Homo sapiens: one gene and its partner. The protein of the gene in region 1 interacts with the protein of each later gene in a pairwise test. Each region holds a gene or a part of one and is shown in the gene's direction. Other genes may lie near its edges.

Region 1 (8,078 bases):
ATAGAAATTTGCAGTTTTGTGAACAGAATGCCTGGCTCATGAAAAAAATCCAGTCAATGATAGAGGCCACGTCATTACTCTAATCCACAGGGGCCCAACAAATGGCGTTGCTGTTTTCCACATCCAAGTTCTAAACCAATTGAGAAGTAAGACAAAAGAGAAAAGTGTATGGAATCCTAAGGTCATCTTTATTGCCAATTAAGGCCTGGATGGGTTGCATGGACACAGTGGGCTCCATAACACTGAACTTTACACTTTGACAGACTGACACACCCTGTCACAAGTGCTCTAGACCCCACAGGCCGAGAGCAGAGCCTGCCCCCATAAGACTGAGAGCCTGGAACAGAATGTGTGCTTCCAGCTGGCGTCTGGCTCCCAGAAGGGAAGAAGCAGGCAGCATTTGAGCCTCACATGCCCATTTCTTTTATTGAAGCCTCCATTCAGAGGAGTCACTTCTTTTCCCTGGGGAAGAGTGGATGAAGGGATAGCAATAGGCCTGGTCTGTTGCTGCAGGGGGTTCTCTCCACATGGAAGGAAACACTGGGAGTGGGAAATGAGTATCTCCCTGTTGGAAGCAGCCCTCTGTATTGCATGCTTCATTTGTTTACTTTCCTTTCCAGACTGGGATTCGTGAAGCAGAGACATTCCCAACACCCATCCCAGGGCCTGGCACATAGTAGATGTTTAGGAAGGGGAGGAATGAATGAACTCCCATCTTCTAATGCCAGTGTTTTTCTAAAGGAGCAATTTTCTGGGGCTAAAAAGGATGCCTTTTCCCTCTCATTTTATCCTCCTCATTGCACCCAACATGCCTTTATCGTGTTTTCCATGTCCTCTCCCTTTTCTGTATTATGGAGGACAGACAAGGAGTGAGGTATTGCTGGATGATTCAGGGAACATTCTTCCTCAGGTCATGCTGTTCTTCCCACCCTGCCCAGGCCAAGCCCTGTGTATGAACAGGTAAAGGGAGTTGTGGGTGCTGCATGGGAAGAGGCAGCCCTCAGCCCTCGTCCTGATGCCCCATCTGTGATGAATGACAACGCCTGCTTTACCCACCTTGGTGAGACTTGCTGAGAGCAGAATTGGGAAGTCACTTTGGAAAGTGGAAAGTACTTTGTCGGCATAAAGCAGTGGGATCTGTGGAAATGTGTTAGAGGACATTCATGTCAGTAAAGTGGTAAAAGATGGTCCAGACCCCACCAGGGTGGCAGAGGAGGGCAGTGCCTCTACAGGCATTCCCTGGTAGTGTTCCACATGTTTTTTTTGTTTGTTTTTTGGGGGTTTTTTTCCGGTGAAATTGGAGGGTATGTCCCAATGGGAGCTAGATTCCCAGGCTGGCCCACAAAAGCCTGTATGACTCATCACATAATAATATGTGTAAGTATCTACTAAGTTCTAGGTATGTGCTAGACAAATATATCAACTCAGTTCTTACAATAACCCATCAAAGGATAATTGACCCCCTTTTTACGAGCAAAGATGTTGAGACTTATCAAGATCAAATTACTTGCCTAAGGTCATGCAGCTAGTGAGTACTGGAGCTGACCCACAGTCAGGGATCATAAGCATGATGCTATAGCATCCTTCTGGTGGAGGATGGGAAGACTGTGAGCACCAGGGATGGGGAGAGCTGAGGAGCTTGGAGGGACTTCAGATCTTCCATAGAGATCATCTGTAAAGTCAGCTGCTTACAGTCACCTGGCTTTGAGCCACCCCTACCCAGAGAGAGGAGTGGCTTCTTCACTCCCAGCCCTTTCTGAGTTCCAGAAGGAGGTCAGTGCTGGCCTAGAGATGCCAGTCTTGTCTTCAGAGATTCTGGATGAATGAAGCAAACAGGATCCTGACTGAGGCAAGGGGGGTTCTCCAGGGCGCTGGCTCCAGTGTTGGAAGCCCTGTGACTCCAGGCCACTGGCCCAGGGGCATTAATATGCCATCAATGCTGACCCTGAAAATTGGCAATTTTTTGGAAATCTTTCAGCCTAACCAAGGGCCTGACCACTGTAGTCATTCAGTTAGAATTTAATACATGTATATGGAAAGTTGAAAATTTTAGGTACTAGGATGAACATTTGGATATTCAATGCAGGAAGATCTTTTTTCTGTCATTTTTGTTTATCCATACGCCACAGGTTTCATGGACAGGAAACTGAGAGAACAATAGACTTAAGGTTCCATATAGGTGAGAAATACTAAACAGGAATTAGACTTGGTAGAGAATGATTGATGTGCTGTTCACCTTTGGGATTTGTTGCTGCCTTTGGGGATTTAGGGTCTGTCTCTGGAGATGTGTTGCAGTAATTCTCCCTAGCTGAGATTCTACCTATGTTGGAATCAACTTTTGGGGAAATGGTTTTTGTTGTGTCACCAACTTTCAAGTGCCAGCTCCTCTTCCCTGGCAGGGTTCACCCTGTTCCCTCTGTACCCTAGCTCTGGCTGTGCAGAACTAATGGGAGTTAAGGTCATGACTATCCATTATGCATTTATTGGGTGCCAGGTACTGTGCTAAGCCCTTGATCTTCATCACCTCATTTGTCCTCGTGACAGAGGAAGGCTATTATCAGGCCACCATTACCTGACTCCACCACCACCTTTCTCACCACCAGTCTCAGCTCAGCTGTGTCTCCTTCCCGGCCCTTTTAACCTTTGATTAATCTCTCCCTCCTCTGTGTTTTAGTCACACTCATATGTATCCCTGGCATAACACACACATCTTGTGGCACTGTGATAATTGGTCTGTATGTTTACTCATCCATTCTTTTGTTCAACACATTTTATTGAGTGCCTCTTATGTGTTGTCTGTTGCCCTCTTTGGACTTGGAGTTCCTTTACAGCAAGAGACTATGCCTTGTTCTTGCTGTGTTGCCAACACATACCACTGTACCTGGCTCATAGTAGATCCTCAGGAAATATTTGCTAAGAGAAGGCCTCTATGTGAGGTCTAGTCCTAGAACAATCTTCTTTCAGTCCTTCCAGCCCCAGGCATTGGAAAATGGGAAATATGTCCCTTAGCTCTTAGCTTGGTGGAGAAACACAGCTGGGATTCTGGGTGCCTGACTCTCAGTGGTCCACCTTACTGGAGTTACAGTTAACTCCAAAGAGCCAATAATATCAACATCATTTCTCATGAGCTGTGGGTGTTTATTCATTTTTTCAGTAGGTGTTGAACACTTTATAGGTATCAGGCTATGTGCTGGGAGCTAGAGTCACAGAGTTGAATAGGACACACACACACACAAGACCTACAACCTAAAGAGATCATCAGCCTAGATGGAGAGGTGGTCAGTTAAGGTTGAAACGGGTTAAGTACCATGGTTCATTGAGAACACTGCTGGGGAGATTTTTAGGAGAAGGTGAGATTAGAGAAAGCTGCCTAGAGAAGATGTCATTTGATCTGAGCCCTGAAGAGGAGTAGGATTTGGACTTGAGGAAGTAGGTATAAAAAAAATGTCTGTATGAGCAAAGGTATAAAGGTGGTAGGTTGTGTTTTGAGGGAGCACAAATGTCATTCGGATAATTAATTTGTCAGTAATTGGCAAGGTGAAACAAGGGTGACCCTCATTGCCATGGGCATATCACTATGATGTTTTTATTTCCTTCTTCCACTTCTTCCTCTTACTCAAAAAATAGTTCTGCTATTGACACACTTTGTCCCTTAAAGAACAGGGGTGGGAGAACCTTCTGTGGAGTGAAGCCCTGTCCAGACAGTCACATGGGGTTCTTAGTCCTTCAGCCCACACTGCAAATGCACACACTGGGACCCCCTATATAAAGGCCCCTCTACATCTCAGCCATGTGCTGAGAAGGAGCCCACAGAGGCCTCCCAGCCCACCCGTGAGTTTCTAGAAGATGGAGATACTGAAGGCAGCTGCCTCACTCCATCAGCAGGAGGAGGCCAGGGAGGCAGATTAGTCACTCACATCATTTTATCTGTTGAGTCAACATCTATTTTTAGGCATGGAACCCATAAAGGGACCTGGCATGTCTGTCATGGAAAGGGGGAGAGTGCCATGGATGAGGGTTCTGCTCATCCTTCATCTTCTTTGCTAGACCCATTCTCTCCCCTGAAGGTCACAGAAGCAGGGTCCACATTACTGCTGGAGGTTTAGGTCTTAATGTCAAAGGTCTGGTTTAATGTGTTCAATTCCTTTTGCACACATGCTTTTGTGTGCACGCACACACACACACACACACACACACACACACACACACACACACACTCTCACCCCTACAGTCTTAATAGGTCTTATGAATCAGTTGTATGGATTAAATAGAACTTCCAACTGAAAAACGCTAAGGCATATAGGTCTCTTCCTGTCCAACGTTGTCAGATGTGCTCTGAAATGACTGTTTTCATCATCTATTCTGAGCCATAACCACCCCAGAAATAGCTTTAGCAGGAAAGTGCTTTTGTTAGACTAGCTGTAAATTATATTTCAAATGTCTGATGTTGTTTTCTTAAAAAATAAATAAATAAGTAAATGAAAGTCTAAAATTAATGACTGCTGGGGTTTGCTTTGCTTATGTGTACTGCTACAGATTTGGCTTCTTGCAGATGGAATTTCAGATCTGTTTACACTTCTGTGTTAGCTTTTGGGGGGAAGAAAAGCAGTTGAGAGATCTGGGAGGACAAATTTACAAAGTCGAACTTATTATAACCATTGGTGAGGCTCTCTTCTCTCTCTCTACTGCCCTTTCCCTCCCTCCTTTCCATCTTGCCCCCATTTTATTTGTTGTGGTTTTTATCTGCCCTGCTTCAAAGTTAGAGGCGACTGGTCCTTGCAGATGTGACGACAAGGTCACATATCCAGTTTCGCAAGCAGATGTTCATTCAGCCCTATTTCACCAGCACTTTGTCATTTGGTGAGAGCAGACCTCATGGGAACAGACTGGAGCAACACAAAGGATGGAACATAAAAAAATCTTGCAGAGAACCTGATTGCTTTTATGTATTCAGGAAGAAGGGGATGGGGGTAGGGAGGGTGGCAAGGAGAGAAATGTGCAGAGCAGAATTTCATGAGGTTTTTTTTTTTTTTCTGGTTTATTCAAAGATTATTATGTGTTGGATACAGTAAATCATCTATACACCCACTTCCAGGAGGTAAATCTTCAGAACTCCATGTGTGGGTAGCTCTGCATTTAACAGCTGCCATACAGTAGCTATTTTGTTCTGCACTTAGAGACCCTTATCTGTGCATTTGTTTTAAGTTATTGTCAACTCTCCTGTTGTTCCTCTATTGTTGTTCTCCTGGTTCTCATTACTATTACAAGGGTAGCTAAAAATCTGAACTACTGAGTGATTTAAACTGACACCATGAGTTGTAACGGTAGATGAGGGGCTGTCATCTTGGTTGTGGACTCAGCATCTACTCTGAGGGTGATTGCCTATAATGGAATTAGCTCCTCTTGCCTTTTCCTAGGTCTCATATGCCCGTCCGAGCTCTGCCTCAATCAGGGATGCTAACCTCTATGTTAGCGGCCTTCCCAAAACCATGACCCAGAAGGAACTGGAGCAACTTTTCTCGCAATACGGCCGTATCATCACCTCACGAATCCTGGTTGATCAAGTCACAGGTTAAGTGTTTCTTTGTAATTTCTTTCCTTGTATATCAATGTCATCAGCCCTGTTACTCATAAGAGCAGAAGGCTGATGGCTGCTTAAAGCAGATGATATGGATCATGAATAGACAGATTTTTGACTTGGAAGAAAGACTTCTTATCGGTCAACTGCCCAAATTTAAAATGGGCCATCTTGGGAGGTAGGAGTTCTCCATCATGGGACTTGTTTTAGCAGCAGCTAAACTACTTGCCAGGGTTGTAAAAAGGATTCAGGCATCAGGCTGAGAGTGGAACTGTATGACCTTCAAAGTCTGATTCAGCCCTCAACCAAATAACATTACTTTTGTATGTGAAAAGAACCTGTATGCATAGCTGTAACTCCAATTCATAGCATTATAGAGTTAGAAGGAATTGTCCCATTTCACACTTGAGGAAACAGGTTGAAAGTGGGGGATCTGACTCCCCAAAGCTAGTTAGTAGCAGTACAAGGATCTGAACCGAGGATCTGGTACTGGTGTTCTTTGTCCATAATAAAGAAAGGCAGCCACCACCTCTCAGTAAGAAATGTCAGGTACTCTGGGTTGCACTTTTAATGACAAGGTGTTTTCGCCTACCTCCAATTTGATTCCAATTTAGAACTCACCCCCTGAGAATAGTTTAGCACGTTTATCATGTGATTCATGAGACAAACCTTCACAGAAGTCTGCTCTGCCCTAGACATTGTGCAGAGGGACCCTGGAGACCAAGAAAGAAGCAGGCACTGCCCCACCCTTACAGGACTCCAGTGTGGAGTCCAAATACTTGCTAGAAGCTGTCAAGTGCCCCTGAGAGCTCAGGAGAAGGTGTGCCATGCCTGGTGGGAATTGCTAGGAGGGCCCCATTGAGGAGGCAATGTTTGAATAGGAGTTTGGAGGATGTTTCAGAGGTATCCAGCAAAAAGGAGGGACAGAGCAGTGTAAGTGGAGAGGAGAGCATATCCCAAGGCATGGAATCGAGGAAGAACAGTCTATTCGAGGAGGATCAGGCAGTTCAGGGTGGCTGGTGTGAGCCTCAATAGGGAATTTGGGGCCAGATTGCCAGAGGCATTGAATGCTGTGCCAAGAAGTCTGGACTTTATCTGGGTGCAGAATGGAGCCATGGAAGGGTATTTTGTAGGTTTTGTTTGTTTGTTATTCATTTTAGAATGGGAGTCAGTGAAGAATAGGTACTATGCACAAGGTACAAAATTCAAAAAGTACAAAAGAGATACAGAAGATGTTTTTAAAGCATATCATGTGGTCAGAGTTCACTTTTCAAATAGATTGCACACTAGCTACATGTGGAGGACACATGAGAAGACTAGAAACTGGACAGTGAGTGATCAGTTATAGTAACTTTTGGGAGGTGATGATGGGGCAGAGCAGTGATAGAGGACTAGAGGGGCCAGATGCAAGAGAGCCCTGTGTTCTGTGGCTGGGAGGCATCAGTCCAGAGCCATGATAGCAGGAATGCAGGTAAACGTGTTTTGATTGGTGAGAGAGATCAGGGAGCTGGGCTCAGCCCTGGCACCACAGGTGGGCTTACTCCTCACACAATATCCACAGGACCCATCTCTTCCCAAAGATGTTTACCAGTTTGGTGTGTTCACTCTTTACAAAGGCTCTTTCTCTTTCCCCAGGAGTGTCCAGAGGGGTGGGATTCATCCGCTTTGATAAGAGGATTGAGGCAGAAGAAGCCATCAAAGGGCTGAATGGCCAGAAGCCCAGCGGTGCTACGGAACCGATTACTGTGAAGTTTGCCAACAACCCCAGCCAGAAGTCCAGCCAGGCCCTGCTCTCCCAGCTCTACCAGTCCCCCAACCGGCGCTACCCAGGTCCACTTCACCACCAGGCTCAGAGGTTCAGGTAGGCATGCCCAAAGAGGAAGAAGCCCTGCTACAGGGGTTCATAGCTGGGCAAGAGCCAGGGAAGCCCATGGTCCTGACAAATGGGGCAAGGGTAAAAGCTTCCACCCCCAGGAATCACTGTGCAAAACTCCCCCCGAGCCTCAGTTTCCATTCCTGTAAAATGAGACAGTTGGAGCAGATGCCCTTCTAAGCCCTCTTCCAATTTACTACTGTGACTGTATAAACTTTAGATTCTTTGGTAGAAACAAAATGTCTGTATTTAACCAAACATGAAGGTTCAGTTTCAACAAGAGTTAATCACAGATCAGTGACCACATTCAGCAGATTAGACTTAAGGCTGGACAGTGGCTTTTAATAAATTCAAAAAATAGACCATAAGGCAGATCCTTGCCAGAAGGAGTTGTTTTTCCTATCTTCTTTTCCCTCGGCAGGTAACTCTGTTGAGTTCAGGGGAGGGGGAAGTGCCTTTGGTGTTAACCTTATTATGTTAAGTCAGTAGATTCTGGGAAGATAGGGAGGAAGATCCTGTCCAAGCCTGATTAGTGTTTCCTTCAAGTACCCAACCCCCAGGAAGCTCCTGGGGCAGGGGGGCATTGCCCTTCTCCTGGGACTTTTCTAAAAGACAGGTTTCTCTCCA
Region 2 (8,078 bases), on another chromosome or scaffold:
AGAAAAGCTCATCCATAAAGGCTGGAGGAAAGAGACTAGGGAGGAGAGGCTTTTCAGGGTAAGTGAAGATTTAGATAATTTGGGATGCAGGAGTTCCTTTCCGATTTCTTTGAAGATGTTTAGGAGGTTGGGTTATCTGCTGAGTAGTAATGATCTTGGTTATAAGAAAAGTTGTAAACAATTTAAGTAATAGGCTATTGAAGGTTAAAAGTTATTGCTTATTTAAATTCTTTTCCACATATGAAGTGTCCGTTAAAGCTATAAATTCTGCTTAAAGTATGTTGTGATTCAGTGTAGGCTAATTAAAAAGTAATGTCAGAGATTTATTTATAAAGATGGAAGAATGGTGCTGTATCTCAGAAATGCCCTTTCCTAATACTCTCACTATGCATGGCAGTTATGATCTATACAGTTGCTGCAAACACTGAATTAGCAAATATGGGACCCTTGCAAACCTCTGTTCACAACTAATCAGTGTATAACCTTTTTTATGTGTGTTTCTGCTTAAAGACAACTTTAAAAAATATTGTAGAATCATTAACATTGAACTCATAGCCAACAACACTGTAACTCATGCGTGAATGAAACTTATTCTCTCCATAAGGTGTATGACAGCCTTCTTTGCTTAGGAACACTAGACAGCACTTCAGCTCTATGCTTGGGTGCCATTTTAAACAACACAATCACCAACAAAAAGCACAAAACTGTGAAAAACGTGGCACTAAACAGTCTGCAAACAAGACACTGGTTTATAGTAGGAGCTCAAATACGGCAGAGCCCTGTTCTACCTCAGCTGGGAACAGAGTTGCATGTTGGGCAACTGCAATTTTTTGCCACCGGTCATATCCACGAATGACTCTGAAAGCACAAGTGTTGATTATGGGGTTACAAGTAAATTTTAGCCTGTGGGTCAGTTCACACATATGTAATCCATAAATAATGAAGATTGACTGTAACTAACAAAAAATTAGAAAACAGTGTTAAAAGTTTCCCTAATAGAATCAAGCAAAAAAGGCATAGGGTACTTTGGCTGTTAGGAAGCTTAACAGAAGTGAAGTAAAAAACTTATCTTGAAGTCGAATTTTGTTGGAAAATTGTGTGCATTTTTTGTTGTTGTTTTAATAAAGCTCTCTGAAATGGACAGGATCTTAAGACAATTTTACTCTTTTCAAGTTTGAGCTACTAAGAGCCTCAGGCTTAAGTTTGGGCATTTTGGAGAGTTAGGTTATATTTTAACAGAAACCTAAACCTGTTACAGAATGCTTAGTTGGAGTTATGTATTCTTATTGAAGTCAAATTTTATGAGCAGTTGAATTGAAAACATTGAGGGTCTTGAATTATTCAATGTTAACAGTAAATCACAAGTCTATTCTTAAAATTGATTTAGCCTATCTCTTCTGTTGAAATAGGTTCCTGATATGGCAGGCTATCCTCACATCCGTTACATTTCATCAGGATTGGATGGAACATCATTCAGAGGTCCTTTCAGGGGCAATTTTGAGGTATGTAATAAAATAAATGAATATGTTTGTCACAGTATCTTTAATGCAGATTGAGTATATATATACTACTATACACAATTGTGTAGGACTGCTACAGTGGCTGGGAATCACATGTGATTTTCTGATGTTGCTTCTGGGAGTTACAGAAATATTTGTAAGTATTATTAATCTTAGGGTCAAAAGTTACCGAAATATTTAAAGATGAGTAAATGAAAATATCTAATATAGAAGAATATAAAAATGTATTAAATCAATATAAATGTCAGATATATAACTATACCATTAAATGTGGTGGGGAACGGAATGTTTTTGACTCAGCTAAATTTTTAGAGAAATCGGTAGAGAAAAAGAAACTTAAGTAATTCCCTTTGTAGCTAAATGTCTTGTTTGAATTTTCAGGAAGAACAAATCATTCGAATGGGATTTAAAGTTTTGTTGTGGTTTGTTTTTTTGTTTGTTTGTTTGTTTGTTTGTTGTTGTTGTTTTTTTAGATGGAGTCTTGCTCTGTCACCCAGACTGGAGTGCAGTTGCACAATCTCAGCTCACTGCAACCTGCGCCTCCTGGGTTCAAGCAATTCTCCTGCCTCGGCTTCCTGAGTAGCTGGGATTACAGGTGCCCGCCACCACGCCCGGCTAATTTTTGTATTTTTAGTAGAGATAGTGTTTTGCCATGTTGGCCAGGCTGCTCTTGAACTCCTGACCTCAAGTGATCCACCCACCTTGGCCTCCCAAAGTACTGGGATTACAGGCGCAAGCCACCGCACCCGGCCCCCGTTGTGTTTTTTTTATGTCAGTTTGGAAGTTGGAGTCATTGTGACTTAGAACTATTGTTTGATTTGGTTCCTTAATTTACTAGAATTATTTCATCTTCTCCATACATACATACATACTGACTTACATAGTACCATGTGATAATATTGTTGTAATTTATAAAGATAACTTTTGCTGTACCATTTCAGTTGGCTGAGGAAAACATGATAAACAACCATTTGCCTTACTGTCTATGAGAAACATTAAGTCAGGCATGGTGGCTCACACCTGTAATCTCAGCAGTTTAGGAGGCCGAGGTGGGAGGATCACTTGAGGCCAGGAGTTTGAGACCAGCCTGGGCAACATATAAACTGTTTTATATATATACTTATATATAAGTAACCACTTGTCATGTGTAAGTTTTTTTGAACACTGTATTTATATTGCAAGTTTCTAAGTATGGAGGTTTATTTCTTATACAATGTTGACAGTTCTGTTCAAGGAATAATCATCTTGGCTTTTACCAGTCATTATATTCTTCACTTTCAGGAACTGATTCATTTGGAAGAAAGATTAGGCAATGTCAATCGTGGAGCATCCCAGGGGACAATTGAAAGATGTACATATCCACATAAATACAAAAAGGTAAGAATTTATTCTATGAAACTTCTGGAGTGTTACTGAAAGGCATAAATGTAATATATACCTTTTTTGAATTTGTAGACTCTAGCAATGACATTTTTATTGAAGTAATGCATACATATTGTTTAAAAATTTTGGAAAGTATAAAAAATATATACTTTGCAGTTTTTTACTCTGCAGACCCTAGTCCTTCTTCCCAGAAGTGAAATCATAGTTAAGGATTTAGATATTCTTCTAGATATTTTTTAGCATTTTCTAATAATGTGCATATGTATATATATTTTTGTCTACTTTAAAAAAAACACAAAAGGAGATGATTACCACATAGTTTGCAGATTGCCTTTCATGCCAATTAGCTCCCACAGATCACCCTTATTATTTTTAATAGCTTATGCAGAATTCCATCATATGGCAGTACTGTAATTTTTTTAACTAGCAATTTATTTTGACGGACATTTTATTGATGTATGTTTCTTCTACTCTACCCTCAGTTGCTTGTATAGCATTATACAGTTATGGGGTAGACATGTTAAATACGTGTCTTAAACCATGCTCAATACCAACGGTCCCCAACCTTTTTGACACCAGGGACCAGTTTTCATGGAAGACAATTTTTCATGGATAGGTGGCAGAGGGGATAGTTTCAGAATGAAACTATTCCACCTCAGATTATCAGGCATTAGTTAGATTCTCTTAAGGAGCATGCAACCTAGATCCCTCACATGCACAGTTTACAATAGGGTTCACGCTTCTATGAGAATCTATCGCTGCTGCTGATCTGACAGGAGGAAGAGCTCCAGCAGTGATGCTCGCTCACCTGCCACTCACCTCCTGCTGTGCAGCCAGGTACTGGTTTGCAGCCCAGGGGTTGGAGACTCCTTTATACTATGTAAAGAATAATCATAAAGTGTGAAAATTACTATTCTCTGTATTTTTCATCTATTTTCAAAGAGTATTGAGGTATTACCAGTACATTCAAGTTTTCAACTGTCCAAGTTAAATACTGTAACTAATGTTAATTTAAATGGATGTTACTTGAAACATTCACTAATAAAAAAAACTTATTTATGCTCATGGTAGGATAAAAATAGTTTATATTGTTTATCATTCTCATTGTGGATTAAAAGTAATAGCTTTTAAGTGAATGAATTTCTGTTAAATTTGATTTTGCTTTTGATCCCAATTATTAGAGGGTCTTAAAAATATACTTAATTGATGATAGTCACTTAATTCATCCATTTATTTATGACAGTCTTACCTGGGAAAAAAGTGCGGGTGAATATGTGGTTTTGTTTTGTTTTGTTTTTCAAATAAACACAGACTTTACTCAGTTGTTCAATAATGTCATCTCTACTAATAAGGTAACAACTGATTGGTTCTCACAGAGGAAACTGCACTGCAAACAAGATGGGGAAGAAGGGACTGAGGAAGACACAGAGGAAAAATGTACTATCTGTTTGTCTATTTTAGAGGAAGGTGAAGATGTGAGGTAACTAGATATTAATTATCTAAAATCCATTGTCAAAACTGTACATGGGATTTTATTTGAAAAGTAAATTACACCGGGCATGATGGCTCACACGTGTAATTCCAGCACTTTTTGAGGCCAAGGCCAGAGGCTCTCTTGAGGCCAGGAGTTTGAGGCCAACCTGGGCAACATAACAAGACTCTGTTTCTACAAAAAAGAAAAATAGTACAATTATTTGCATGTGATGGTGTGCACCTGCAGTGCCAGCTACTCAGGAGACTAAGGCAGGAGGATGGCTCAAGCCCAGGAGTTTGAGACTGCAGTGAGCTTTGAGCACACCACACTGCACTCCAGCCTGGGCAATAGAGTGAGACCCTGTCTCTGAAAAAAAAGAGTAAAAGTAAACTGGAAACCAAATAAAGATTACTTTTGGCATATACTGTTACCAATTTCTGGCACGTAGAACTGGCTTCATCTGGCGAGTGAAACAATAAAAGATTAAAGTATCTATGTTACCAACATGGGAGTGGGAAATATACTGCCTATTGTAGGGCCACACAAGGTTTGGCCAGGGAAATTTCGTAGTCAAAATTGTCTTCTGTAAATCTTGCAGAAATGAGAATTTGAGAGGCTTTGGAGGTCCTAGAAAGTTATAATGTGTTCTTCAAAACTTAAACAGGGATCCAGATTAGTCCTATGCAGTCTGTTTTACAGCATCTTTTTTTTTTTTTTTTTTTTTTTTCCTTTTCTGGGAGATGGTCTCCTTCTGTTGCCCAGGCTCAGGGCAGCAGTCTCAGCTCACTGCAACCTCCACCTCCTGGGCTGAAGCGATCCACCTACCTCAGCCTCCCAAAATGCTGGGATTACAGGCGTAAGCCACTGCACTCGGCTATAGCATCTTTTATAAACTGGTTTTGTCATAAAATTTCCTCTAAACTAGTAGGACTATTCCCTTCTTGCACCTTTGTTGTTTAGAAAATGTTAATATGTTAACCCTATATTAATTTTAGGCATTTTCTTTGTATAATCACTTAAGTAATTGTTTTCTTCCTGTTCTTTTTTTTAATGTTAACATAATGCCATATGAAACAGGTTCTATATCATATATAACAGAACCTTGTAGTAATATTATTGCCCTAATTTATAAGGATAACTTTGTCGTACCTCTTCAGTTGGCTGAGAAAAAAATTGTCTACCATACGACAAATAAGGTTTTTTGCACACTGTATTTCTAATGAAGGTTTATAAATTTGGAACTTAATTGCTTTTACAGTATTGACAATACTGTTCAAGGAATAATTGGGATACTTTTTAAGGCTATTATTTTAACAAGATATTAGGAAGTCTGAAAAGTGTATAAAAACTCTTAACAGTTGCTAGAAGTAGAAATGGACACGAGTCAGTAACTTTTATTCCACTGTTAACACTCAGATTTAATGTTACCCTATCTTGCTTGGGGGCTTTATTTCTCAATTTCTAATTGGTAATTTGGCATGATGTAAACAAACAAATCATTACATCTCCTTTTAACTTACCTGTTAAACAGTAGCACAATATTAAGTGTATATAACAATTATTCCGTGAAAAAAGTATTACTCACCTTTAATCAGTTATGTACTTAAGTTTAATGTGTAAAGATATTCTTGATAGAAAATAACATTGCACAATAAGACATTTTTTAGTGAGGAAAGTGTAGTTACTATATATTTGCCACATGAATTGTAATGTTTTTGAGAGAGAATTAAATGATGTAATAAATATATATTTGAGATAATATGTATTTTTAAAGGGCATTACAAATACAGTGATGATTTGATTTTTAAAAATATATTTGCAATATTATGTGACAGGTAACATACTGCTAACTCCAGGGCATTGGCAGCTCCTGTACCAAAACAAAACTGGAATAATTGGCAGTGTAATTTGTGTTCTTACAGTTTTTAAGATTTTATATAATTTGGTCCTGTAGCTTTGAAAGTTAATTATCTTGATCATTTATATATTATATTGCCCAGAGTGCTAATTTAATCGATGTGTTTTTTATAGAAGAGGAAGATGCTTAGTACCTTCAAAACATTATTGAATTATTACATATATAATTTGTTAACTACGTACAATTATCATAAAATTAATTTTTGCTTTTTGTTTTCTTGCCAATAATAGACGTCTTCCATGTATGCACCTTTTCCACCAAGTGTGTGTTGACCAATGGTTGATTACCAATAAGAAGTGCCCCATATGCAGAGTGGACATTGAGGCCCAGCTGCCAAGTGAAAGTTGACACCATGTTTCAGAACTCTTGCCCTCCCTCTCATTCCCATCCTTCCTGGTACTGCAGTCAACCAAAGATGGCATGACTTACCTGCGCAGATTTGGAAGCATTGAACTTAGAGTGCTGGCTCTGCTATATGGTACAACTAATGCTAGACCTACAGTTTATGTATACAGTTGATTTTGATGTATTTATAAAAGCTTTTTTTTCTAGATTTGACATTTTTCTGTATCATTTTACTGTATTTTTGCATGGTTCCTTGTATTGCATTTCTTTGCACATATTATGGGCTTGTGACCCTAAACTTGCAGGCAAGGTTAGCTGCTTTAGTAAGTAGAATTTTGTGGTCTTTTTGTTTTTTACATAGTACCAAGCCTTGATAATTATGAATTTTTTATCCATTACTAACCTTTAATTTAATCAATCATGTACTTTAGTTTAATGTATAAAGATCCTCTAGAAAATGATAATATTGTGTATTAAGACATTCCTTAATTAGGACAAAATGGCTGCTGTATATTTACTATATGGAGTTCTGAGTTAAATACCATCCTTAATACTGGGAACAGAATACAACCCATATAAATCAGATGCAGGTGGTAGTCACATCACCAGAGTGATCAGTATAAATTTTCTTGGTGTATCCTTTTCCTTTCAACACAGTGCAGATAAGAGTTGAATATTGATATCATACATTTAGACTGCTGTTCTGATTGCATTTATCTTTTTCCTACATCATTTAGAATTTTATTTCCCTGATTCAGTTTTTGCTGCTGTGAAACAGCTCTGATGAACACTAAATATTAATTTCAATTAGCTAGATTGTACATACTTGCAGATTTAACAAAATTTTAGGGAAATTGAAAAAGACATGTAGAATTTGTTGTCTTCTGCTAAGCACGAAAAGTTAAGATATCTGCTTACATTGATTTTGTAGACACATTAAGTCAAGATTTGGAATTTAAGTCACTGGCAGGTATCTGTGCATTCATAGAACTTATAAAGGTCCCAGGATCACTTTTAAGGGATTTTTATTAGTTTAAAGGTAAATAAAGTCAGCTGAATCTACATGTCTCTTGTTTTATTTCTCTCTAAACTTGAAAACAGTAAATCTGCAGATACTGTGAGGCACAAATTATACTGTCAACCTACTGTTGCTATGGTTATATACTCCCACTTCATACATTACCAAGAGTCGATCACTGATTTAAAATTTTTAATTTCTATAGTTAAGATTTACTGCATAATATAGAATATAAAGTTAAGTTAACATACTAACATTTCTCCTTTGGAGGAAGTTTTAATCTACTTCAGGATGCATATTATTATCAAGATACTTTCATATACAGGATAGCCTAATTTTATTTGTTTAAATATGCTTAATATGCCCCAGATTGCAAATGCATCCAGTCAGTAATATCACTGTCTGTATGTGGAGGACATG

Evidence for each region.
Region 2: the proteins of ELAVL4 (region 1) and RNF111 interact in binary tests that used the Homo sapiens proteins (3 or more experiments, as listed by UniProt).

Annotation. Positions count from the first base shown.
Region 1 is NC_000001.11:50,188,348-50,196,425, forward strand, and holds part of ELAVL4 (ELAV-like protein 4), read left to right. Parts: intron 1-5,417; coding exon 5,418-5,571; intron 5,572-7,213; coding exon 7,214-7,439; intron 7,440-8,078. UniProt on the Homo sapiens protein: RNA-binding protein that is involved in the post-transcriptional regulation of mRNAs. Plays a role in the regulation of mRNA stability, alternative splicing and translation.
Region 2 is NC_000015.10:59,088,258-59,096,335, forward strand, and holds part of RNF111 (E3 ubiquitin-protein ligase Arkadia), read left to right. Parts: intron 1-1,409; coding exon 1,410-1,502; intron 1,503-2,801; coding exon 2,802-2,897; intron 2,898-4,255; coding exon of another isoform or gene 4,256-4,279; coding exon 4,280-4,383; intron 4,384-6,525; coding exon 6,526-6,643; 3' UTR 6,644-8,078. UniProt on the Homo sapiens protein: E3 ubiquitin-protein ligase. Required for mesoderm patterning during embryonic development. Acts as an enhancer of the transcriptional responses of the SMAD2/SMAD3 effectors, which are activated downstream of BMP.